5 separate regions of the Homo sapiens genome follow, and regions 2, 3, 4 and 5 are each linked to region 1. The links come from fine-mapping of genetic effects on gene expression. A gene starts in region 1. Each other region holds a variant in brackets. All regions are shown on one strand. Distances are from middle to middle.

Region 1 (5,105 bases):
ACCTCTATACAGTCTGATAACAGACCAGCCTTTATTAGTCAAATCAGCCAAGCAGTTTTTCAGGCTCTTAGTAGGTGTCAGTGAAACCTTTATATCCCTTACAGGCCTCCGTCTTCAAGAAAAGTAGAACGGACTAAAGGTCTTTTAAAAAGACAGCTCACCAAGCTCAGCCACCAACTTAAAAAGGACTGGACAATACTTTTACCACTTTCGCTTCTCAGAATTCAGGCCTGTCCTCAGAATGCTACAAGGTACATCCCATTTAAGCTCCTGTATAGACGCTCCTTTTTATTAGGCCCCAGTCTCATTTGACACCAGACCAACTTAGACTGTGCCCCAAAAAACTTGTCATCCCTATCTTTTGTAGTCATACTCCTATTCACCATTCTCAACTACTCATACATGCCCTGCTCTTGTTTACACTGCCGGTTTACACTGTTTCTCCAAGCCATCACAGCTGATATCTCCTGGTGCTATCCCCAAACTGCCACTCTAAACTCTTGAAGTAAATAAATAATCTTTGCTGGCAGGACTATGCTGAATCTCCTTAGGCACTCTCTAATCAGATGTCCTATGTCCTCCCAATTCTTAGACCTTTTATACCTGTTTTTCTCCTTCTCTTATTCCATTTAGTTTCTCAATTCATCCAAAACCGTATCCAGGCCGTCACCAATCATTCTATACGACAAATGTTTCTTCTTACATCCCCACAATATCACCCCTTACCACAAGACCTCCCTTCAGCTTAATCTCTCCCACTGTAGGTTCCCACGCCACCCCTAATCCCACTTGAAGCAGCCCTGAGAAACATCACCCATTCTCTCTCCATACCACCCCCCAAAAATTTTCGCCGCCTCAACACTTCAACACTATTTTGTTTTGTCTTATTAATATAAGAAGGCAGGAATGTCACGCCTCTGAGCCCAGGCCAGGCCATCGCATCCCGTGACTTGCATGTATACATCCAGATGGCCTAAAGTAACTGAAGATCCACAAAAGAAGTACAAACAGCCTTAACTGATGACATTCAACCACTGTGATTTGTTCCTGCCCCACCCTAACTGATCAATGTACTTTGTAATCTCCCCCACCCTTAAGAAGGTTCTTTGTAATTCTCCCCACCCTTGAGAATGTACTTTGTGAGATCCACCCCTGCCCACCAGAGAACAACCCCCTTTGACTAATTTTCCATTACCTTCCCAAATCCTATAAAACAGCCCCACCCCTATCTCCCTTCGCTGACTCTTTTCGGACTTAGCCCACCTGCACCCATGTGAAATAAACAGCTTTATTGCTCACATAAAGCCTGTTTGGTGGTCTCTTCACACGGACGCGCATGAAACTAACAATGTATTGGGGAGAGAAACACACATCTGCAAATATCATTGCTGAAAAGAAATCATTGCATTAAGTGCTATAGTTAAAGCGTATAAACCCAACACTGAACACAAAGGAGGGAAGGACTGGGTCTGACCTGGAGAGCAGCAGAGGAGAAAGTGCGAAATGAAAGGTACCCAGCAACAGACAAAGGGTCACACTTGGCCCCAGACATAGTGCTTCTTCCTCAAGTGCGAAGGGAGTATTGCAAACACCAGATATGCAGTGTTATCTGTATTTGGAAATTGTTTATATTCAGGCCATTCACTTCATTCAGTCTGGCAATTTCATTCAATTAATCTCATTCATTTCTTAATTAATCTCATTCATTATTCTCTGTAAACTCCACGAGAGCGGAGACTTTGTGTCTTCTTCATCGGTAGATCCCCCATGCCTACTGGCACTAGTAGTTGCCCTAAATTCACTTATCAAAGGCAGCAAGAATAACTGGGACTCTTCTCTCTTGCTTTTCACGATTTCCAGCAGGGCACAAAGGCCTACAGTCCCCACCTGAAAAAAACAGACTTGACTGGAGGCAGCGCCTCTTCTTCCAAATACAGCCCCAGCTGACGCAGATTAGCACAACCGCCTAAGCGGCGGAACTCTGGAGAGTGCGGAACCTAGGATCCTAGGAAACTGAAGGCAACGGAACCTGGGGGCGATGGAATCCGGGAGCGGTGGAACCCGGAGCCTGTAGAACTTGAATCTAGAGGAACCTGACAGCGGCGCCGAGGGGGCCACCCGGACTCTGTTTGGAACGGAAGCACAGTGTCCGCCGCTTCCTGGTTGCGGGTCAGCGCCCAGGTCCTGGGCTGGCCGCCGGGATGTTGCCCTACACAGTGAACTTCAAGGTGTCGGCGCGCACCCTCACGGGGGCCCTCAACGCCCACAACAAGGCGGCGGTGGACTGGTGAGGACGCCGAGCTTCCAGGTCGCCAGGATCGGCCAGGAATGTGTGAGGGGGAAGGGGGAAGGACAAGAGGTTTCACCCCCTGGTTAGTTTGGCCTCGCTAAGGCAGGGAGCCGCCCTCACGCAATGAGCTTGCTTTCAGTTGGTGGATTTTTGTTGTTACAAAAGTGATAATAGCCCCGTGTGGGAAATTCCCCCATGCAAATACATTTCCCCTCTTTCTCGCGTATTTCTCTGCTGTTTTCTCTGCACCTCGCCCTTTTGCCGTTCCATTCCTCTCTCTTTTCCTCTCCTCCAGCTTCCAGGCTTCTCTCTCTCCACCATTAATTCCCTGTGCACTTTCTCTTTCCCATCCTGTCTTTTCTTTTTCGTTGTCTTGTATTCCTGTTGTCTTTCAACAATGTGCCAGACCCTGTGCTAGGCGCCTGTTCTTTCACCTGTCCTTTTCACCTCTTTTCGGGCTCCTCCTGTGTAGAACATTCCTGCCTTCAACAGGTCGTCTTTATTACTCTCTCCTTTCACTATAAATTACTACTGCAGCTCTGAAAACTACTCATTAGACAAATGTAAAGCAAAATTCTGTGGCTGTGGGATGTTGTTAGGAGGACTGAAACGTCTTGTGCAGTGTTTGTCGTTTTATTTAGTTGGAAGGACTAGGATTAGTCGCAGTATCCCCAGGCACATTGTGGATACTAAGGATTAGAAATCGGATAAGCGAAAGACGTATGCCTACAAGAACAGTCAGAGGGCACAAGTTCCTTTTTATGTCCTCGGGTCTCTATTTTCATATCTTTTAGAACTTTTTTTATCCGAATGAAAAGTGAATTTCAACAAGCATTTTAAGCTTAGCCAGATCTTTTATTTAAGTGGGATAATGATAAATACTGGCCTTTGGGTTTAAATGATTTTATTAATGGTGGTACATATGAATTAGACTTATCATTTATTTAGGCTTGGCAAGAAAGAAGTCGTCCTGCTTTGTTCTGTACTTAAACTTTAACATTACTGTTTTGCTAGGGGCTGGCAAGGTTTAATTGCTTATGGATGTCATTCACTTGTGGTAGTGATTGATTCCATTACTGCCCAAACTCTTCAAGTTTTAGAAAAGCATAAAGCTGATGTTGTAAAGGTAAGTAAAATCCCACTTTGACGCTAACATGTTGTCTAGTCTAAAGTTTAATACTGTGTATCACTAAGCTCTCATTAAGTCTTACGTGTAAGTGTTGAATAGCTTTTAAATATAACAACCTATTTGGGGTAGCCTAGAATTTTCATATATATGACTTAATGTCAATACAGGGTGAGTTATTAAATGCTAGTTGTTAGATCATTTTAAGGCAGATGAAAGTTCTACCATTTACAAGACCACTCAGTCATTCCTTAGTTTTGAGCACTTACCATATGCTATGGATATGGAGATGAAAGCCCTCAGATAATTCTCCATCTTATAAGGAAGACTCACAGCGTGATAGTGTGATAAGTGAGACTTGCGTAACACGCTGTGAGAAAACAGAGGAGCTGCATATTGCCTGGTTGTGAGGAGAGTCACAGAAGTCTACAGTTTCAAGACTAGTAGACAGTAGTTAGCCAAGTAAAAAATTGACAAGGAGCATTGCAGGGAAAAGCAAGAATATACACAGAAGTAAGTAGCGTGCCATAAAGATGGCTAAAGATGGGACACTTGTAGGAGTGATGAAATAAGAGGCAGCCAGAGAGATTCAGCTGTCTGTCCTGAAGTTTTGTAAGATTACGAAGGAGTTTGGATTTTTTTTTTTTTTAGACAGAATCTCACTCTGTCGCCCAGGCTGGAGTGCAGTGGCATGATCTCGGCTCACTGTAAGCTCCACATCCTGGGTTCACGCCATTCTCCTGCCTCAGCCTCCTGAGTAGCTGGGACTACAGGCACCCACCACCATGCCCAGCTAATTTTTTGTATTTTTAGTAGAGACCGGGTTTCACCATGTTAGCCAGGATGGTCTCGAGCTCCTGACCTCGTGATCCACCCGCCTTGGCCTCCCAAAGTGCTGGGATTACAGGTGTGAGTCACCGCGCCCAGCAGGAATTTGGATTTTTGAGTAGGAGATTGATGTGACCATATTCGCGTCTTAGAAAAACTCTGGCAGCAGTGGAGGATCTGCTGAAGAAATGCAAGACTGGAGGCAGTAAGATCATTTAGGAGATTTCTGCAGTAATTTTGGTGGGAAATTCTAAGGGCCTAAAATAAAGCTGGGGCATGGAGAAGTCATGTTTAAGAGCAGCAAAGAGGTAAACCTGATAGCCTTTATAGTGATCAGTATAAAGGAGAGTAAGAGAATAGAGTGACTCCAAGGTTTCTTTTGGTGTAATTGAATGACAGTGTTTCCAGTTATCAGAGGTAAGCATCTGTGAAGTCAGTGAATTTTTAAGTTTTCAACATGCAAAATCTGAGATGCCTGTAATATATTGCATTATAGTGATCCGGGCTTTAGGAGATAGGTCAGGATTAGAGATAGAGATTTGGAGTCTTTTTCTTTTTTAAATAATAGCTTTATTGAGATACTCATACCATAAAATGTACTGACTTAAAATGCACAATTCTGTGGCTTTTAGTATATCCACAGTTAATGCAGCCACAATTACAATGAACTTTTTTACCTCAAAAAGAAACCCTATATCCACTAGCAGTCATATTCCATTTCCCCCATTTCCCTCATCCTTTGGCAACCACTGACCTACTTTCTGTGTCTGTAGACTGGCCCATTCTGGGGATTTTATATAAATTGAATCATATAATTTGTGGTCTTTTGTGCATGACTTCTTTCACTTAGGATAATGTTTT
Region 2 (5,105 bases), 43 kb before region 1:
TGTAAATAGCATCTCTAATTCTCAAAACAACCTTTTAAGTTAAGTATTTTCATTTTACAGATAGGAAACTGAGGTTCAGAGAAGTAGTATTATGTCCAAGCCGCCAAGCTAGTAAGTGACAGAATCAGGTTGCAAATCAGATCTGCCTGATTGTTCTCTTCCTGCTTCCCACACTACCCCACTGTTTGCACATCTCCAGTGACAGGGAACTCACTGCCTCCCAAGCCACATGTGTGCTGAATAGCGCTAAGGAATAAAAAGCACTTTGTGTTGAAATGAAACCCACTGCCTGTTACTGCTACACCTAGAACCTGCATCTGCCCTTTGGAGCCACACAAAGTCCATCAAAGAGGGCTTCCACAAGACAGCCTTCCAAGGAATTTGAAGAAAGATTGTGGAGCTCAATTTCTCTTCTCTAGGTTAAGCCTCCTGGGGCTGGGGTGTAGGGCTCAGGATGTGGGTCCTGGAACCAGACTGCTGGGGTTCAAGTCTCTGCTCAGTGACCTACTGGGTGAACGAGATGAATTTCAAATTTTCTTTTACTCAGTTTCATCTTATACTCTGTCTCATCCATAAAATGGTGTGAAAGCAATAACATCTACTTTTTTGTGTTTATGAGAATTCAATAATTTATAGAAAGCACTTGCCATACAGCTTGCAAACAGCAGGAGCTTAATAAGTGACAATGATAATCAGTACTCATGGCTTCCAGCTGTGTAACAATCCTGCTGTTTCTCCTCTTGACCTTTTCTTATTGATGTAGGGGCCTCTTGAATGTGATGAGGAAACAGAACGGAAAACTCCAGGACAGGCCTGAGCAGCTTGTAAGAGAAGAGCATCATCGCCTTTATTCTAAATGTGATGCTTGTTTTAACGTAGGCTAAGGGGAGTTATTAGTTTGGGCTATAGCCACATTATACTGGTAACTCGTATTAAACTTGGAGTTAACAGAAACCCCCTGATATTTTTATTCCACCCTCCATGCCATCCTAACTCAAGGGCCCTCTGAAGTCTAAAGCTGAAAGGTGGCTTACTCGAATTGAGTGGTGGGTAAATGGGGGTTGGTTATGCATAATCTGTTTTTCAGACATTTGAAATTCTCCATATTTTTTAAATGAGGGATTTAAAGATTTCCAGGACTTAGTCTGGGCCAACTTAGTGATGATTGAATGAAATTTATTGAATGGACAGATGGAAAGATCGATCTGGTAAGTCCATGGATGTGAAAACTGAGGATCTGAGATTTTAAGTAATCTTCCTGGGTCTCATAACCAGCCAGAATTAGGCATCAGTCTTCAAGCCTGGGGAAAGAAACTGGCATTTATTGCTTTTTGTACCAGACCCCTCGCCAGGGGCTTTACCTGCCTTTTCTCATTTAATCTTTACAACCAACTTATGCCGACAAAACCAAGGTCCAGACGTCACCCAGCAATGAATGGCAGGGCTCAGCTCCAAACCCAAGCCACCAGACCACACACTGCCTCTCTCCAGCTCTGTGTCGACGGGTAGTTCTATATGCAAAGCTATCTATATTGTTTTAAGGATAACAAGTAACATTAAGCAACTATCTGCTGGCTCCTCTTCTATGTGCCTTATTTCTTTCAACTCACTAATCCTGATAGCAACACCATAAGATGTGAGGCAGGGAAAATGTAAATGTCTTGCTCAAGTTCATCGTTAATAAGTAGAAGGACTGAGATGTGAACTGGATGGTCTAGTCTACGGACTGTATATTTAACAACCACAGCCTATTGATTCTTGTCTATCAACCTGGAATCCAGAAATACATGCCTCATGTAGGCACCCTCCAGAATTCTTTGTCCTCCCTTTCTCGTGTATGTCTCTTTCCCTAGACCCTTACCTCCTTTCCTCCTACCCCATCATAAATGGTTGCTTCATTTGAAATGATCTAACACAAAAATTGGTGAAATGATTATCAAATTTGCAGAGTACTCAGGTTGATGTGTGTCAAACACATTTATTATGCAACCAAAGATGCCGATTCTGGCTTGTTTTCTCAATTCTCAGCTCTAAAAGCTTGACAAGGAACATTACTAGAAAAACACATGCTCTGTAGTTAAGATGGATGAAACTGCAGTTTGTGTTGATTTTGGTAAGACAGCTAGTTAAGAACATGTTTAATTACCTGATCCCAGGGGTTGTGTTTGAATTAACCAGATGTTGGTTCCTCTCTGTACTGGAAGATGTTCTCAACGGATTCTTATTGATGATAGGAGGATCAATGGGTAAGTGTGCTTCAAAGTAATTAATAATGCATGTTTAGGTTAGAGAATTCAATAGCTTAAGAGAATAAAATATTTTAATTCCTATATCATCAACAGCAGTTATTTGCAACAAAGGACGACTTTGTCCCCCAGGGGATATTTGGCAACACCTAGAGACTTTTTGGTTGTCACAACTGGGGTGAGAGGTGCTACTGGCATCTACTGAGTAGAGGCCACAGCTTCTCCTAAACATTTACAGTGCTCAGGACAGCTCCCCACAGAAAGAATTATCTGGCTCAAAATGTTAATAGAGTGGAGGCTGAGGAACACTTATCTATAACAATACCAAAATAATACAAATAGTAATGAGAGAAAAGGTATTGATTTCACGATACAGAAAATGATTCATAATAATAGATTGACATTGGTCCCCACCATCACATCAACTCTATTAAAATGAATGATAATGGTTATAATTTAGTTAAAGGTCACACTGAAGCAGAGTTATCAGTATCCAATGAAAACATTTCTAGCCCTCTTTTTCTGTAGAAATTGTTCCACAACAGCCAGTTTTTCTGGGATTCACAAATTCAGGGATAACATGTAACACATGGGCTTAGCATTAACATAACTACAGAAGGAGAATTGGCTTATAAACCTGAAGACAGGCTCAGCACGGTGGCTCACACCTGT[G/A]ATCCTAGCACTTTGGGAGGACAAGGCAAGCAGATCACCTGAGATCAGGAGTTCAAGACCAGCCTGGCTAATATGGTGAAACCTTGTCTCTTCTAAAAATACAAAAATTACCCAGCGTGGTGGCGCATACCTGTAATCCCAGCTACCCAGGAGGCTGAGGCAGGAGAATTGCTGGAACCCAGGAGACGGAGGCTGGCTGCAGTGAGCTGAGATCGCACTACTGCACTCCAGCCTGGGTGACAGAATGAGACTCCGTCTCAAAAAAAAAAAAACAAAAACAAAAAAAAACCTGAATGCAAACGAAGGTTCAAGTGAAGGTGTCACCTGCTTGGGTAAGTCATATAAGTCCCATGCCTGGGTTTCCCTAATCTTATAATGAAAGTAATAGAAAACTTCCTGAGGCATTAAGATGATTATATTAAATAAAGCATATCAGCCCCTTAATAAGAAGAAAACACTATCCTACAGAAGGTTTTATTAGAAGAATCGTTATTACAAGTAAAAACAGACACCTCAAACAGCCATAGAAATTGCCTGATAATTCTAAATTCTAATAACAAACCCTAAAATAGTTATGCCCTAGTCAATTCAATCAAAGACTTAGTCATTCTTTTCTAATAAAACATGATTGTTTGAATTAAATGCTCTTAATAATATCCCAGAATTAGATAATGGCAGTGCACCTGGAGATTTCTCTATTATCAACAGAATAGCATCTCTTTGAGAAGCAGAAATGGTTGAGTGAGTTCTGAAATGAGACTAGAAAAAACAAAAATAGATATGGGGAAAAAGAACAATGTATAAAACAATCTTTCAATTAAGACTAAACAGAAAAAAGAGGCATATAGGCCAAAATCTGGGGCAGAGAACACTCTTCCCTTATGGTTTTATGACATTAGACAAGTTTTTCAGTTTCAAGAGGACAGGCACATGATTTTAGTAAAAGGAAGGCTGTATTGAATAACTAAAGGCGTGAAAATAGAAGGACAAACAATTTTTAAAATAAAAAAGGCAAACATAATGCCCTAAAGCATATCCTTGGTTAAATAATTTATTTTTCCGAGTTGCATGGAACAAGAGCAGGTTAAACTGTACCCTTCTGTAAAATTAAGTAGAACTCTCTATATAAGGGTATCAGGAGCAGAGGGCCCCCTTTTAATCTGTGAAGTGATGCACTTTAAAAATTCCATGCAGTGCTGGCCCAAGGCTAAATTTTCATATCAAACACAATGAAATTCAGGAGGAACTTATACCAAATTAATTTTCTCAAAGCATACATTGATTTGCTCACTTCCTACACTCCGTGCAAACTCAAAAGCCAGCTGAGGCTCTGTAAAGAGTGTAAGTTCAGACCCTCCTCCTGCCAGTTTCCCTCCCATTCCCTCTGTTGGCTGTCACACCTGCTATTATGCACAACTCCCTCCCTGAATTAGGGCCCTGGATCCCCTGCTTTCCTCTTTCCAAGGCTGCTTTTGCTGCTGCTTTTCCCCAGGAGGAATACTCACATTTGGATCCTAGCCAGCTCAGCCGCCACCCCTCCAGGAAGCCTCCCTGACTTCCCCAGCTGGAAGGCTGCCAGCAGCCCATCCTGCAGCCCTTCCCAACAGCTCACCTATCACACTTTTTGTATTCTAGATTATTTTGTTCCTGGACCCAACACCATGCTAAGCAGGAGAGGAAGAAGGAAAGAAGGGAGGGAAGCCCTGGCTTCAGCATCCTTTGAGCACTTGCTGCTTGCTTGCCCAGCATTTCCCCAACATCCTTGCTCTTCCAACTCTTGCATAATCCTGGGGAGTCAGCACACTCCACTTACAGAGGAGAAAACTGAGGCTCAGGGAGGTCCCCTGCTCTTTCCCCCACTCTATGTGGCCACAGCTTCTCCAATCTGCCTGGGGCACCCCACCAGTGATGTGTTGCTTACTGTAGGCTGCCTGGACACTTTTGGTGCGAATGCTAGAAAAATGAATTCCACTGACAGACCTCAGCATTACTTAGTGGGAGCCAAGGAGGCCAGTTGCTTTAAGCACTCCTGGAGCATTGCCTCAGGCCACTGGATAATTCTGGGCAAGCTGATAGCCACTGCCCCAGCCCCAAACGCCCTGGGTCCCCTATCGGAAATAGATTCCCTCACACCAAGCCGATGCCTGGGCTGCCCACACACTGCTATGCAGAGTAACAGGGTGACAG
Region 3 (5,105 bases), 55 kb after region 1:
CACCTAGATACACCAGCCTCTGGCTTTATGTTTGTCTCAAAAAAGTAGTGTAGCACCTCTGTTTAATGTTTGTATTTGTAAACAAAATATTCAATTGCATTTTTTGAAAATGAGTGTTTTCCTTTAGTTTTCTACCTTATGAATTTTAAAAAGTTATGTTGGAGGAAAATGTTCTCATAATTAGAAAAACCGTTTCTCTTACTAGACAGACAGAGCTGTGCAGTTGCTGTTGGAAACAAGTGCAGATAACCAGCATTATTACTGTGATTCACTGAAAGCCTGTTTAGTCACTACTGTCACCTCGTCAGGCCCCTCTCAGAGCACCATTAAGTTGGTGGCAACGAATATGATTGCCAATGGCAAATTGGCAGGTAAGGCACACTTGATATGTTTGTCATCTCTCTGAAAAATGAGACCTTGTTCCCAGCAAAGTATCTGATTAGTAGGGACATTTCTTTCTCTTTTACATATGCTGAAGAAAAATAGAAAAATTATTGCTACCTATAAATCAGATGAATATAATTGTCTAAACCAGAATTAATTGTTTACACTTTTCAGAGTGAAAGGGGGCACTGTTAATAATTGCTGAGATAATAGGCATAAATCCAACAATCCTAGGCAAATCAGAACAATAAAACCTGTGAGAGAACTATGCTCTCCCTACTTATTCTCCAGACTGTATTGTGCTTCCTACCCTGGTTACTTGAGTAATAACAGTAAAACTCTTAATATTATGTTTCAGAATTTAAATCAAGAATGTCTTCAGTAGGTATAAAATGGGCACGACTAGATAAGGTCAAATGGGGATTTAACTTTTTAATGACTTCTCAAAGAAGGAGCTGCAGTGTCACTTAAGGGGATGCGCTTTTGTCTTTCAGAGGGCGTTCAGTTGCTCTGCCTGATAGATAAGGCTGCAGACGCCTGCCGCTACCTGCAGACATACGGCGAGTGGAATCGGGCTGCATGGCTGGCAAAAGTAGGTGGTTCCAAGTTTCAATAGGTGCCCTCAACATTCGGGATAGAAAGCTCAGTCCTGAACTTTGGACTTATGACTTAGAAACATTTTTTGGCCTGCAAAGCTGCTTTGCAAATACTGTCTTGGAACCTTTATCCTTTTCCTATTCTTTATGAGTGTAAATTGCATTACTTATTTAAAAATGGATCTTGCATTGGTAGCAATTAAGTAAAAGCAGCTGCCTCCTCTTTCTCCCAGAGTCTGAGCCGAAACTACAGTCCAGAGGTATAGCCAGGCCCTGGGTCCCGTAGGCACAGACCGTTATCATTATTCAGAGTATGCAGCAGCTTCAGGGCAGTGTGCTAGTCAAGCAGAGCATAGCCTGTATTTCATAGAAACAGATCTCACTTTAACTGAATTATTATTTTTTCTTTATAGAGTGCAGGATGTTTTTGTTGTTAACACAGGCGTCTTTCTCAGGTCCGTTTGAATCCTGAGGAGTGTGCCGATGTTTTAAGGCGGTGGGTTGACCACCTTTGTTCTCCACAAGTCAATCAGAAATCAAAGGCTCTCCTGGTTCTCCTCTCTCTGGGCTGCTTTTTTAGCGTGGCAGAGACGCTTCACAGGTAAACCGAGAGTTCACATGGGCTGCTCAGGCCTGCCCGTGAGCAGTCACTTCATGTTCTCTCGCGGTTCTAGCAGGTCATGGTACTCGATGTGTAAAGTGAAAGGAGAAGTATACATTTCAGGTTTGTCAAAAAACCCAAAGGAGAATGGAACTGTCCGTATTCATTACATCTTCATTCGGTCTAGGAGCTATGCTAGTTTCCTACTAATATGCTGATCAGACTTAACAGGCACCTAGTAAAAGGGAATTTAAAAGTCTTCAGAGAATTGGGGTCCATTCAGCTTTGACTAGAGCAACTGAGAGGAGGCCCAGAGAGCAGGGGGAGAGGCGACAGAAGGCATGGTGAGGTGGAGACATCCCGTCTGAAAATCTGGAAGAGGAACAACCATCACTAATTGTGGAGCATTTCATTTATTCAAAACTAAGGGAGGTAGATTACGGAAATATGACAAAAGATTACTTGTCAACTCTGGACAGGGGTACATGGGCACTTGTCATATCTCTGTAGATTTTTGTGTATTTAAACTATTTCACAATTTTTTAAAGTATTAATTTTAAAAAGCTTGTGTTTGGAGATGTGAGTATTCTTCCCTCCTTTTTTCAACAAACTAGGGCTTAGAAAAGTGCTTGTATCTTAATGCAGTATGCAGGTTTCCAGGGAAAATGTGTAAATGTCTTTATACCCTTCGATGCTGCTGCCCACCAGTGATGTAAATCACAAAGCATAACTCTTGTTTTGTTCTGTTGAGCAGCATGAGATACTTTGATAGAGCAGCCTTATTTGTGGAAGCTTGCCTCAAGTATGGAGCATTTGAAGTCACTGAGGACACAGATATCCTTTGCAAGGTTGTTTGTAGTGACGAGGAAGAAAGTGACATGCATGGGTTTTGGAATTTCCCTTAGTTGTGCTGCCTGGACAGGAACTATATTATATTGTGAAAGATCCATGTTCTGATTTTCTGATTCACCAAAGCCAGGAAAGAGGGAGAAATTAGAGGACAAAGAATCAGATAAGAAGGTGGCTGCACCATGGGTGTCAGCTTTGACTAGGATGGAGGGAGGCAGGAAGGACTATAGAGGACAGGGCCCCCAAGTCTTGTCTGAACTTAAAAAGAAGATGAAGGAATGATTTGGGAAACAGGTAGAAGGACCTGGTACTTTGAAATAGTACTTTTTCAAGACCAGACATTCCATGGAATAAATTTTATATATTTATCTAGAAAAAATATACTGGAATAACTAAAAAAGTCTCACGATCACCTCTAGTGACAATATGATATGGGACAAAATACAGCACTTAAAGAGAGGTGTTGCTCAGGCCAGCCACTATAATCCACCCATCAGCCAGAACATTTTATTTCTTCTAAATGGCACTTGAGCAACATTGGTTTCTTTGAAAAGAATGAACTTGAGAATGCAACTCCCAGGACCAGAAAAGAATGAAACTGGGCCAGTGCTTGCATGGTCCTGCTGCTGCTCACTGCACTTTGCTTCAAATTCTTACATTTGCTCTCATTTCTACATGGCAGGTACTTGGTTCTCTCTCTCTTTCTCCCTCTTTCTCTGTGTGTGTTTATA[A/AT]TTTTTTTTTTTTTTTAACAGAGAATTAAAACTAAACTAAAAATTTTTTTTTTCCTTTTTTTGAGGTAAGGTCTCACTCTTCTGCCCAGACTGGAGTGAGTGGCACGATCATGGCTCACTACAGCCTTGACTTCCTGGGCTCAAGCAGTCCTCCCACCTCATCCTCCCCAGTAGCTGGGACCATAGGTCCACACCATTGTGCCTGGCTTTTTTTTTTTTTTGGTAGTAACCCGGGTCTCACTATGTTGCCCAGGCTGGTCTTGAACTCCTAGTTCAAGCAGTCCTCTCACCTTGGCCTCCCAAAGTGCTGAGATTACAGGCATGAGCCACCCAGCCCTGCACTGAAAGTTTTTTAAAATTAAACTGAAGGCTGAGCCTACTCAAGATCATGTACCTAGTCACTGGGAAGGTGACTGGTTCAGTGTATGCATTTTGAGGATCAAAGCATCAGCACAGAGTACCCAATAGGCTGTTTAAAAAAATAAAAATAAATAAAAAAAAACCAATAGGACAGGGCTTTCTAAAAACCCAACAACCAGATATAGGGAACATTCAGAAATAAATATCTGCCCCCAAACTGCCAGCCTCTCAGACTTTCAAATGGAATGAGGATATGCAGGTTAAGTTTCTCCTCTCTTATCATTCATCTTCCAATCTTCAGTTGAGTGTAGGTTATGGGAGGATGTTGGTTGGGTCTTCTGGAAGGAGAAGCTTTGGACTCAGCTGGTACGAAAGGTAATGATGGTACAGACTGAGACATGGCCTACTATGGCCGGGAATCACCCTCTGCCCGCGAAAAGTCTCCTGTGTTCATCCTGTGCTGCCCGCTGTGGACACCAGGTCCCTTCCGAGCAGCCAGCAGAGCAGACGCGACTCACCCTTCCTGCTTCTGGGAGCCTGTGAAGAGTCTCATCACAGCCCTTTTTACTCTTCTTTTCCTTAACTATGGTTTACAGAAACTCATCACTGCTATATATGCAGATTATGCCCGGAGTTTGAAGAACCTCGGTTTTAAGCAGGGAGCAGTTCTCTTTGCTTCAAAAGCCGGAGCAGCTGGCAAAGACTTATTGAATGAGCTTGAGTCCCCCAAGGAAGAACCCATTGAAGAGTGACAGCTTAATAAATGCCAGGGAATCTGACCTGGAAGGCAGATGGGAGGGGGCTGGTCTGGCTGTGGCCACCGTCACAGTCCAGGATGAAGAGGAGTACAGGGTCCTGTGAGCTGTTTGACCACTGTTCTAAGACTATGTGTGCCCAAAAGCACATAAGCATCTATGTTGAGAGTAAGTTTGTATCCTGCGTTGGTCTCAGAAAGAACGTGAATGCTTAAGATTTTGAAAGTACATAATATTTTATACTTTGGGAGAGAGCTTTAAGAGTCCCTGGAAATACTTTTTAATTTTTTTAACTTAAAATTCAAGAGACTGAATCACTTTTCTCATTGATTAAATGTAAAGATTATTGAGAAACCTATAGTAAATGAAATTTGTGAGATGTTTTCTCAAATATATGCTGTGCCTGTACTTATATACAGTCTTTCAAGAGAGATACAAACAAGGCAGAAACATTTAAACTAGTATTAAAGGTAGTTTACCAAAGCATTTTTTGTTTTCTTACCTTGAAAACACAGAACCGTTAATTCCTTGGTTTAAGCAGTTGCTAAGTTTTGTAATTTTAGGCTCAGAGGACCATAGGAGGTTTTAAGATTTATGTTTAGTCCGATAGGTGAGGTCTTTGATATTTTGAATTTTAACTCCTTTTATGATACATCACAGTAACCTCATTTTTGAAGTCTTTCTTTGTACTTTAATGTTCTCTCTGTTCTAATAGTTGAAGTATGAGATGTAACTATTATAAACTGTTGCTGAAAACATAAATGTCTGTAACTTACAAACATGATAAATAAATTAAAAATTCCATCCAGGCCTTTGTGTTCTCTGCATT
Region 4 (5,105 bases), 23 kb after region 1:
ATGGTCCCTATAAATTAAGATTTGCCTTTTGGTGTGAAATTGTGTATTTGTATGTTATAGGTAGAAAAATTTATCTGGGTTCCAACTTGCTGTCACATTGATTTCATAGTAATGTGATGAACCTAATTTTCTTTACAGCATAGAGAAAAAAACAAAATTTAGTTTGCTATTAAGTACACATTATTAAAATACATTTCTCCAAAACTTCTGAAAAACAGTGTATTTGTTTGAAACTCAACATTTCTTCTTAAGATGCTATCGGCTGGCTTCTGGCTTTCTCCCCCAGTCTATTAACATGTGATTTGTGGTGAAAACCTCACCATATTTATTCTGTGGCCAACATGGCTGACTTCTCAGTGTTAAAGACTCATTTGGGTATTACTGTTTGGTAGTACCCTTCTGTTTTTTTCTGTGCCTATCTTTTGAAAGCGATTTGATTTTTATGATTCAATTGTCTATATATGTGTCCCGATTTATATAATGCAGATAAATGTTTAATTTTTGCTTTAGAAACTGTTGATTAATATTTCACCACTAATAGATTTTAATTAGGATTCATCAGTGTGCTTCATATGTGCATGTATGTATTATGTCAGTGTTCCTGATTTGTCAGTTAGGATTTTGTCAATTTCTTGGGGAAAACTACTTCTTGGGATAGCTATGTAATAAGAGCTATGGCAAGGTCTGAGCTTTCCATTGTAGAATAAGCTGTATTGGTATGTAGTGAATATCATTTACTGAATTTAGTATAACAAAGTAAAAATATAAGTACCTAAAAGTTTGTCTAGAGGTGTCACTAAGAAAGATAAATAAGAGTTCAGCTATGGAATTAATTCTCCTTGTGGTGCCCCTAGTGCATTAGATCATAGGTTCAGCATTGTTAAAACTTTCAGATTGCAGAAATCATTGGATTATTATGAAGTTCTGTTAATTGAAAAATTTTAGTAATTTAGTTATTTTCTCAGTGCCAAAAGGTATTATTATGAAATAGATGATAAATGTAAACAACTGTACAATGTGTTTTTCTAGAATAGTTTTGCAAAAGATTTCTGGAGTTTTATTCAGCAAATAAGATAATATTGGAATTTGCCCAGCATTTTTACTTCCACTCTGTTGCTTTGCATGAATTCATTAATCTTTAAATCATGTGCAGTGCAAAAGTGATTGTCCATATAGACTGTTCACTTTTCTTGCTTAACTTATAAAAACACTATAGAGACTGAAGCTTTACTTTCTCATGTATGTCCGTGTCCTTTACATTTAAACTTTAGACATACTACCTGAGACCATGAAAAGCTTTAGAATAATACCTGTAAACTATTAATTATAGTGATGACAGAATACTAATAGTTAACCAAGTGCTTACTTTGTGCCAATTACTGTGCTTAGTGCTTTATGTTTCCCCATTTAATCTCCAACAACTAGATTTTCTACTCTTCCCATTTTAAAGAGATGAAAACACAGATTTAGTGTGGGCAAGTAATTCATCCAAGAGTATAAGGAAGAGCCAGGGCTTAAGCCCAGGTTTCTTTAATTGCAGAAACCACAGTTAACCATTATACTTTACTCTCTTGTCAGGATTTATTTAATAAAAGAGACAAAACAAAAAGAAAACTTTGGAAAGAAAAATGGATAACCCTGGTTAGTGAGCTCTGCTAGATTGCTTATTTGAGGACCAGCTATAATAAACCTTCTGAGTCTCAAAAAGTATAAATTCCCATGTGTATAAAAGCTTAGGAAAGTGTTTCTTCAAATTGTATGTGTATTAATGTAAGTTTTAAGGTCTTTCTGTGAAAAATCTATTCCTGGAATTAGGCAAGGCTTTTGAGCACGTGAGGTTAGGCCCATTTTTTTTATAAGGAAGTGGACCAGAGAAATTCATTCTTCTTTGTGTGTTTGTTTAAACACATAGTTTGGGTTTCTTTTATAAAAGATAAATGTGTTAAGTGATTAAAGTCTTGAGAAAAGACTTTTCTTGCAAAGTGCTGGAACTCCCACTGAATTAATGCTCTTCCATGATGTCATTTTGAAAGGTACAAGTAATGGTTCTGTCCTGGTGTACCATCTCACCAGTGGTCTGCTACACAAAGAGTTAAGCATCCACTCATGTGAAGTCAAGTAAGTATGTCATTGTGATGATGACATCACAAACATCATATCAGAAAAAAAATTCTCATAGACTTTTCTACATTGAGTACTCTGTAATATCTGCAGTGGTGATTATTTGAAAAGTTTGAATAATATTCATGTCCAACTAATGGCTATGTTAATCAAGGATGATAACTAATT[C/G]TTTGCTGTGTAAAGAACATAAGCAGTAGAGAATGTTTTCTCTTTTATTAGGTTGGTGCAAAAGTAATTGCGGTTTTTGCAGTTTTTTTTTTTTTTTTGTTGTTGTTGTTGTTGTTTGTTTTGTTTTGTTTTGTTTTTTTTAAATGGCAAAAAACACAGCTATTTTTGTACCAACTAATATTGTTGCACCTCATTTATTTCTCCTAAGGGCCAGGCTGTTTTCTCACTGGATATCCTTACGTTGCCTTGTTCAGGTTTATTTTATTTATTTATTTTGCTCAAAATTATTATTTTTTATTATTTTAAAATTTTTTTTACTTTAAGTTCCTGGATACATGTGCAGAATGCGTGCATTTGTTACATAGTTATACATGTGCCTTGGTGGTTTGCTGCACCTGTCAACCCATCACCTAGGTTTTAAGCTCCACATGCATTAGCTATTTGTCCTGATGCTCTCCCTCCCCTCACATGCCCCCGCCAACAGGCCCTAGTGTGTGTTGTTCCCCTCCCTGTGTCCATGTGTTCTCATTGTTCAACTCCCACTTATGAGTGAGAACATACAGTGTTTGGTTTTTCTGTTCCTGTGTTAGTTTGCTGAGGATGATGGCTTCCAGCTCCATCCATATCCCTGCAAAGGACATGATCTCCCTTTTTATGACTGCATAGTATTCCATGGTGTGTATGTACCACATTTCCTCTTTCTTTTTTTTTCTTTAATTTTACTTTAAGTTCTGGGATACATGTGCAGAATGTGCAGGTTTGTTACATAGATATACATGTGCCTTGGTGGTTTGCTGCACCTGTCAACCCGTCATCTAGGTTTTAAGCCCCACATGCATTAGGTATTTCTCCTAATGCTCTCCCTCCCCTTGCCCCTCAATCCCCGATAGGCCCCAGTGTGTGATGTTCCTCTCGCTGTGTCTATGTGTTCTCATCGTTCAACTCCCACTTATGAGTGAGAACATGCAGTGTTTGGTTTTCTGTTCCTCTGTTAGTCTGCTGAGAATGATGGCTTCCAGTTTCATCCATGTCCCTGCAAAGGACATGAACTCATTCTTTTTTATGGCTGCGTATTTTTCATTTCTATAACGATCCATCAGTAGGACTGCTTATGACAAATTCAAATAAAGTCATTTTAATTGTTAATTTGTCTTATTTATTCTTTGTTTAAACATCATCAGAACGCTGCATAGCATTTATTTGATTTTTAGGACATGATCTGCTTATGAGTTCTGTGTATGCAGAGCTGTCCGAGGGAAAGCTAAATTGACGGAAAAGTGCTTCTTGCTTTCTGTTCCAAAATGCCTACCTGTGCTGTCCATAGCATTATTTCGCTGAATGCAAGGCTATTTTCCTTTTGTGTCCTATCAGTGATAGATCGTAGAGTTACATATATAAAATATGAATTTCCACTTTTTTGTTTGTTTTTTGATACAGTCTTACTCTGTCACCCAGGCTAGAGTGCAATGGCGCGATCTCAGCTCACTACAATCTCCGCCTCCTGGTTTCAGGTGATTCTTATGCCTCAGCCTCTTGAGTAGCTAGGACTACAGGCACGTGCCACCATGCCCAGCTAAATTTTGTATTTTTAGTAGAGACGGGGTTTCACCATGTTGGCCAGGCTGATGTTGAACTCCTCACCTCAAGTGATCCATCCACCTCAGCCTCCCAAAGTGCTGGGATTACAGGCATGAGCCACCACCCCCAGCCAGTTTCCAGTTTTTTTTTATGATCTTTCAGTGAAAGCATAAGAAGTCATTTTCTGTTTTCTGTACATTAAATAATTGTAGGTCTTGTGTATAAAAATTCTCAGTGAACCCTTAGCAAACACATTATCCTGAGTACATGCATTTTCTTAATGGAGAAGGGTTAACCTTTTTTTTCTTTTTTTTTTTTTTTTTGAGTTGGAGTTTCGCTCTTGTTGCCCAGGCTAGAGTGGAATGGCGCTATCTTAGCTCACTGCAACCTCTGTCTCCCGGGTTCAAGCAATTCTCCTGCCTCATCCTCCCAAGTAGCTGGGATTACAGGTGTATGCCACCACGCCCAGCTAATTTTTGTATTTTTTAGTAGAGACAAGATTTCACCATGTTGGTCAGGCCGGTCTTGAATTCCTGACCTCAGATGATCTACCTGCCTCTGCCTCCCAAAGTGCTGGGATTACAGGCGTGAGCCACCGCGCCAGGCCAGGTTAACCTTTTAAGTATCACAGCTTCTGATTGTGATGGAAATCTCTGAAAAGTTTGCATTGTCTTACTGTTTCAAGTGCATTGTTGTGTGGTGCAGCCCAGGTGACTGTTTATTGCCACCTTACGCTGTTCCTATACAGCATCTCCCCAGATACATTTACGTGGAATAATAATGTCTTTAAAAGCTTTGGGCTTTTGAGGTGCAGTGACACAGGTATCTGTTTGGACTCTTTCAGGCTGTTATTCATCTCTTCTCTTCTGTTGCAGTGTCTGTAGCTTGCCATTCTGGCACTTCTAGTAGTCTCTGCTTACACTGCTGAATCTTCTCTCTCTCTCTTTCCCATCTCCTCTTCTCTCGACATTTCCTTTCACCCTGCCTTGTGTGTCTGGTGTTTCCTTTTATGGTCAGCACTAACCAATCGAAACTCTCCATTTAATCACTACTTATTCTAGGGATTATGTTAACTATTAATACTTCACACGTATCATTTCATTGAATCCCCACTACAATCGTATGGGGCAGGTATTGTATTTCCAGTCTACAGAGTAAGAAACTGAAAATTACAGAGTAATCTGTGAAGGAGCTAGATGGAATTCACTCTGGGCCTTTGAAGCCTCAGAACCTGAACT
Region 5 (5,105 bases), 72 kb after region 1:
CTACCTGACTTCAAACTATACTACAAGGCTACAGTAACCAAAACAGCATGGTACTGGTACCAAAACAGAGATATAGATCAATGGAACAGAACAGAGCCCTCAGAAATAACGCCGCATATCTACAACTATCTGATCTTTGACAAACCTGAGAAAAACAAGCAATGGGGAAAGGATTCCCTATTTAATAAATGGTGCTGGGAAAACTGGCTAGCCATATGTAGAAAGCTGAAACTGGATCCCTTCCTTACACCTTATACAAAAATCAATTCAAGATGGATTAAAGACTTAAACGTTAGACCTAAAACCATAAAAACCCTAGAAGAAAACCTAGGCATTACCATTCAGGACATAGGCATGGGCAAGGACTTCATGTCTAAAACACCAAAAGCAATGGCAACAAAAGACAAAATTGACAAATGGGATCTAATTAAACTAAAGAGCTTCTGCACAGCAAAAGAAACTACCATCAGAGTGAACAGGCAACCTACAAAATGGGAGAAAATTTTTGCAACCTACTCATCTGACAAAGGGCTAATATCCAGAATCTACAATGAACTCAAACAAATTTACAAGAAAAAAACAAACAACCCCATCAAAAAGTGGGTGAAGGACATGAACAGACACTTCTCAAAAGAAGATATTTATGCAGCCAAAAAACACATGAAAAAATGCTCATCATCACTGGCCATCAGAGAAATGCAAATCAAAACCACAATGAGATACCATCTCACACCAGTTAGAATGGCAATCATTAAAAAGTCAGGAAACAACAGGTGCTGGAGAGGATGTGGAGAAATAGGAACACTTTTACACTGTTGGTGGGACTGTAAACTAGTTCAACCATTGTGGAAGTCAGTGTGGCAATTCCTCAGGGATCTAGAACTAGAAATACCATTTGACCCAGCCATCCCATTACTGGGTATATACCCAAAGGACTATAAATCATGCTGCTATAAAGACACATGCACACGTACGTTTATTGTGGCATTATTCACAATAGCAAAGACTTGGAACCAACCCAAATGTCCAACAATGATAGACTGGATTAAGAAAATGTGGCACATATACACCATGCAATACTATGCAGCCATAAAAAATGATGAGTTCATGTCCTTTGTAGGGACATGGATGAAATTGGAAATCATCATTCTCAGTAAACTATCGCAAGAACAAAAAACCAAACACCGCATATTCTCACTCATAGGTGGGAATTGAACAATGAGATCACATGGACACAAGAAGGGGAATATCACACTCTGGGGACTGTGGTGGGGTGGGGGGAGGGGGGAGGGATAGCATTGGGAGATATACCTAATGCTAGATGACGAGTTAGTGGGTGCAGCGCACCAGCATGGCACATGTATACATATGTAACTAACCTGCACAATCTGCACATGTACCCTAAAACTTAAAGTATAATTAAAAAAAAAAAAGAGGCTCTGATGGGCTGCTTCAGAAAGACAGGATTTGAACAAATCGTTGAGAATTTAAGAACAGATAAAAAGACAATCCTCAGTAATCACTGCCTTAAAAATGTAACCAGATTTTGGGAGGCTGAGGCGGGCAGATCACAAGGTCAAGAGATCGAGACCATCCTGGCCAACATGGTGAAACCCTGTCTCTACTGAAAATAGAAAAACTTCGCTGGGTGTGGTGGCATGTGCCTACAGTCCCAGCTACTCGGGAGGCTGAGGCAGGAAAATCGCTTGAACCCAGGAGGCAGAGGTTGCAGTGAGCCTAGATCGTACCACTGCAGTCCAGCCTGGCTCATAGCGAGACTCTGTCTCAAAAACCAAAACCAAAACAAAATGTAACCAGAGGGGTCAATTTTCGCTTTGCAGTTAGGGTATTTTTTGTTTTGTTTTGTTTTTGTTTTTGTTTTCAGACGGAGCTCTCGCTCTGTAGCCAGGCTGGAGTGCGGTGGCGCTATTTGGCTCACTGCAACCTCTGCCTCCCAGGTTCAAGAGATTCTCCTGCCTCAGCCTCCCGAGTAGCTGGGACTACAGGGGCATGCCACCATGCCCAGCTAATTTTTTTGTATTTTCAGTAGAGACAGGGTTTCACCATGTTGGCCAGGATGGTCTCGATCTCTTGACCTCGTGATCTGCCCGCCTTGGCCTCCCAAAGCGCTGGGATTACAGGCGTGAGCCACCACTTGAAGCAAGGCAGCCGACGTGAAAGCAGAGCGAGAAAAGCTACACACGATGCGGCCTCTGCTGTTCCTGTTCCTGTTCCTGGTCAGTGATGTTGCAGGTTTAGGGTCAGCAAACCACAGCCGGCAGCCCGAATCCCTGCCTCTTTCTAGAAATATGGTGTTACTGCAACAAAACTGTGCCCACCTGTTCATTGTCTGACTGTTTTCAATGATAGGGTTGAAAAGCTAGAAGGGAATCAAGTGGCCTGAAAAGCCTAAAATACTTACTCTCTGGGCCTTTACAGAAAAATAGTTCAATAACTCCTTCTCTAGGGTCGAAATGCTTCCTGGTGATGAAATCTCAGCTGTCTAACTGCCGTATTGTTTACAGACTGGTATGAGGTCCTTTGTAATTTTTCTGCAGCTAGGTGCATTAGAACCTACCTCCTTAGAAGGTTGTTGTTATAAGCTCCGTCCCATCTGGCTTCTTCATAGGCCCATGTTGCCATGGGAATGGGCCCAGGAGACTCCAAGGTTTATCCGCCAGGCTGACCTTAGTCTTATTGAGAGGTGACATCGTGCTGGCAGTCCTCAGAGCCCTCGCTCGCTCTCGGCGCCTCCTCTGCCTGGGCTCCCACTTTGGCGGCACTTGAGGAGCCCTTCAGCCCACCGCTGCACTGTGGGAGCCCCTTTCTTGGCTGGCCAAGGCCGGAGCCGGCTCCCTCAGCTTGCAGGGAGGTGTGGAGGGAGAGGCGCGAGC[G/A]GGAACCGAGGCTGCGCGCGGCGCTTGCGGGCCAGCTGAAGTTCCGGGTGGGCGTGGGCTTGGCGGGCCCCGCACTTGGAGCAGCCGGCCGGCCCTGCCGGCCCCGGGCAATGAGGGGCTTAGCACCCGGGCCAGCGGCTGCGGAGGGTGTACTGGGTCCCCCAGCAGTGCCAGCCCATCGGCGCTGAGCTCGATTTCTCGCCAGGCCTTAGCTGCCTTCCCACGGGGCAGGGCTCGGGACCTGCAGCCGGCCATGCCTGAGTCTCCCACCCCCTCCATGGGCTCCTATGCGGCCGGAGCCTCCCAGATGAGCGCCGCCCCCTGCTCCAAGGCGCCCAGTCCCATCGACCACCCAAGGGCTGAGGAGTGCGGGCGCACGGCACGGGACTGGCAGGCAGCTCCACCTGCAGCCCCTTTGCGGGATCCACTGGGTGAAGCCAGCTGCGCTCCTGAGTCTGGTGGGGACGTGGAGAACCTTTATGTCTAGCCCAGGGATTGTAAATACACCAGCAGGCACTCTATCTAGCTCAAGGTTTGTAAACACACCAATCAGCACCCTGTGTCTAGCTCAGGTTTGTGAATGCACCAATCGACACTCTGTATCTAGCTACTCTGGTGGGGACTTGGACAACCTTTGTGTCCACACTCTGTATCTAGTTAATCTAGTGGGGTCGTGAAGAACCTTTGTGTCTAGCTCAGGGATTGTAAACGCACCAGTCGGCGCCAAGTCAAAATAGACCACTCGGCTCTACCAATCAGCAAAATGTGGGTGGGGCCAGATAAGAGAATAAAAAGCAGGCTGCCCGAGCCAGCAGTGGCAACCCGCTGGGGTCCCCTTCCACACTGTGGAAGCTTTGTTCTTTTGCTCTTTGCAATAAATCTTGTTACTGCTCACTCTTTGGGTCCACTCTGCTTTTATGAGCTGTAACACACACCGCGAAGGTCTGCAGCTTCACTCCTGAGCCAGGGAGACCACGAACCCACCAGAAGGAAGAAACTCTGAACACATCCAAACATCAGAAGGAACAAACTGCAGACGCGCCAACTTAAGAGCTGTAACACTCACGGCGAGGGTCCGCAGCTTCATTCTTCAAGTCAGTGAGACCAAGAACCCACCAATTCCGGACACATTATTGTTGATAAATCTGAGGTCAAAGGCATCAACAGATGATTGAAAAGTTTAACTCCAAGTGCCGTTTCATTATCAAATATTTTTAAGCAAATCTCCATTTTACTCCAGATACTTCTGAACACGTTCTGCTATGAGATCTTCACTTTATTCCAATCTTTTGCATTCTACCATCATTTTTAAGCCAAAATACTTCAGGCAGGCTAGAAGATGAAAAAATATTTATGTCCCAAATAAGTGGCATGCACTACTGTCGTAGAAGAGAATCCATGGGGTGCAGGGACCCACGTACCTCCCTCTTGGGAAGTGCATCTCAGGTCAGGGACTCCTACAGGGCCCAATGACTGGGGCTTCAAATAATCCCACAGAGCTGAGCCAGGAAGTAGAACAATAATTAGAAGTGAAAAATGGACAAGTCTGCAATATAATCCAATGGAGACAATTCAAGGAGGAAATTGGCAAACCACTATGTTTGCACAGGTACGTTATGGAAGGAAAGGAGGGAATCCTAAGAAACAAGAGATTTCTTAAGGCTGATTTGTGCAGACATGATGCAGATCATTTTCTTAAGAACTATCTGCCCAACAACACAATTCAGTCCTCCAGGTTTTTACTTCCCAGTGTTCTTCAAAAATGTGTATCAATGAGGAATTTATTTGAAGAACAGCTCCTTGTTTGAAGTTGCTGATCTTTGCCTAGAATAGGCCAAGGAAAATATACCTCATCCCGTTAAGGAGTTAGAAAGCTGTTCCAGCAGATCATATTGTAGCAAACCTGACATAAGTTCATTTAAATGCTAAGGATCTGATCTGAGCTTGTGTTTCTGGAATTGCCAATGCACATTTCAGAGGGCCTCAGTAACTGTCAGCCAAGCCTTGGTTTTGCTTTTTGCCTTTGGCAAACCCACTCAAGAATGGTTCTAAACACAAGGACCAGAGATGTGGAACAGGGTGAAAGCAGCGGCGCTGGGAACACCTGCTTCCCGGCAATCTGGCTGCCTGGCCTTGGACAAGTTATCACCTGAGCCTCACTTGTAAAATGGTGATAATAGGGTCTCCCGATAATAGGGTCTCCCTCCAGGG

Alleles and levels. Alleles are on the strand shown, and positions count from the first base shown. SD is a standard deviation of normalised expression in the study named. Not every link is listed here.
For the expression in activated naive CD4 T cells of the gene that starts at base 2,143 in region 1, allele A in region 3 goes with a lower level than allele AT (large effect, 0.76 SD a copy in Schmiedel 2018).

Evidence for each region.
Region 2: its variant is fine-mapped to the expression of WDR11 in whole blood (INTERVAL, PIP above 0.99).
Region 3: its variant is fine-mapped to the expression of WDR11 in activated naive CD4 T cells (Schmiedel 2018, PIP 0.95).
Region 4: its variant is fine-mapped to the expression of WDR11 in lung (TOPMed, PIP above 0.99). The same link has a PIP of 0.9 or more in aorta, atrial appendage, coronary artery, esophagus muscle, fibroblasts and lymphoblastoid cells.
Region 5: its variant is fine-mapped to the expression of WDR11 in whole blood (TOPMed, PIP 0.97).

What each region holds. Positions count from the first base shown.
Region 1 is chr10:120,849,220-120,854,324 of GRCh38, forward strand. WDR11 (WD repeat domain 11) reads left to right here and starts at 2,143. Exons shown (of 29, transcript NM_018117.12): 1 at 2,143-2,287; 2 at 3,305-3,416. The coding sequence starts at 2,202. It overlaps WDR11-DT (WDR11 divergent transcript), which reads right to left and starts at 1,960. Exons shown (of 3, transcript NR_033850.1): 1 at 1,475-1,960. RefSeq lists enhancers at 1,785-2,329, 1,808-1,927, 2,088-2,557, 2,330-2,873, 2,568-2,627.
Region 2 is chr10:120,806,087-120,811,191 of GRCh38, forward strand. The region is part of intron 2 of LINC02930 (long intergenic non-protein coding RNA 2930); the gene reads left to right. The region is part of intron 1 of WDR11-DT (WDR11 divergent transcript); the gene reads right to left. Among named protein-coding and RNA genes, the nearest start is that of WDR11-DT, 43 kb to the right of the region's middle. The variant G/A (reference allele first, on the strand shown) is at 2,919.
Region 3 is chr10:120,904,441-120,909,545 of GRCh38, forward strand. It overlaps WDR11 (WD repeat domain 11), which reads left to right. Exons shown (of 29, transcript NM_018117.12): 25 at 206-371; 26 at 879-976; 27 at 1,436-1,581; 28 at 2,336-2,415; 29 at 4,116-5,084. The coding sequence ends at 4,273. All of the region lies in intron 2 of LOC105378519 (a long non-coding RNA gene), which reads right to left. Among named protein-coding and RNA genes, the nearest start is that of WDR11, 56 kb to the left of the region's middle. The variant A/AT (reference allele first, on the strand shown) is at 3,162.
Region 4 is chr10:120,871,806-120,876,910 of GRCh38, forward strand. WDR11 (WD repeat domain 11) reads left to right here. Exons shown (of 29, transcript NM_018117.12): 11 at 2,034-2,118. Among named protein-coding and RNA genes, the nearest start is that of WDR11, 23 kb to the left of the region's middle. The variant C/G (reference allele first, on the strand shown) is at 2,290.
Region 5 is chr10:120,920,944-120,926,048 of GRCh38, forward strand. All of the region lies in intron 2 of LOC105378519 (a long non-coding RNA gene), which reads right to left. Among named protein-coding and RNA genes, the nearest start is that of WDR11, 72 kb to the left of the region's middle. The variant G/A (reference allele first, on the strand shown) is at 2,895.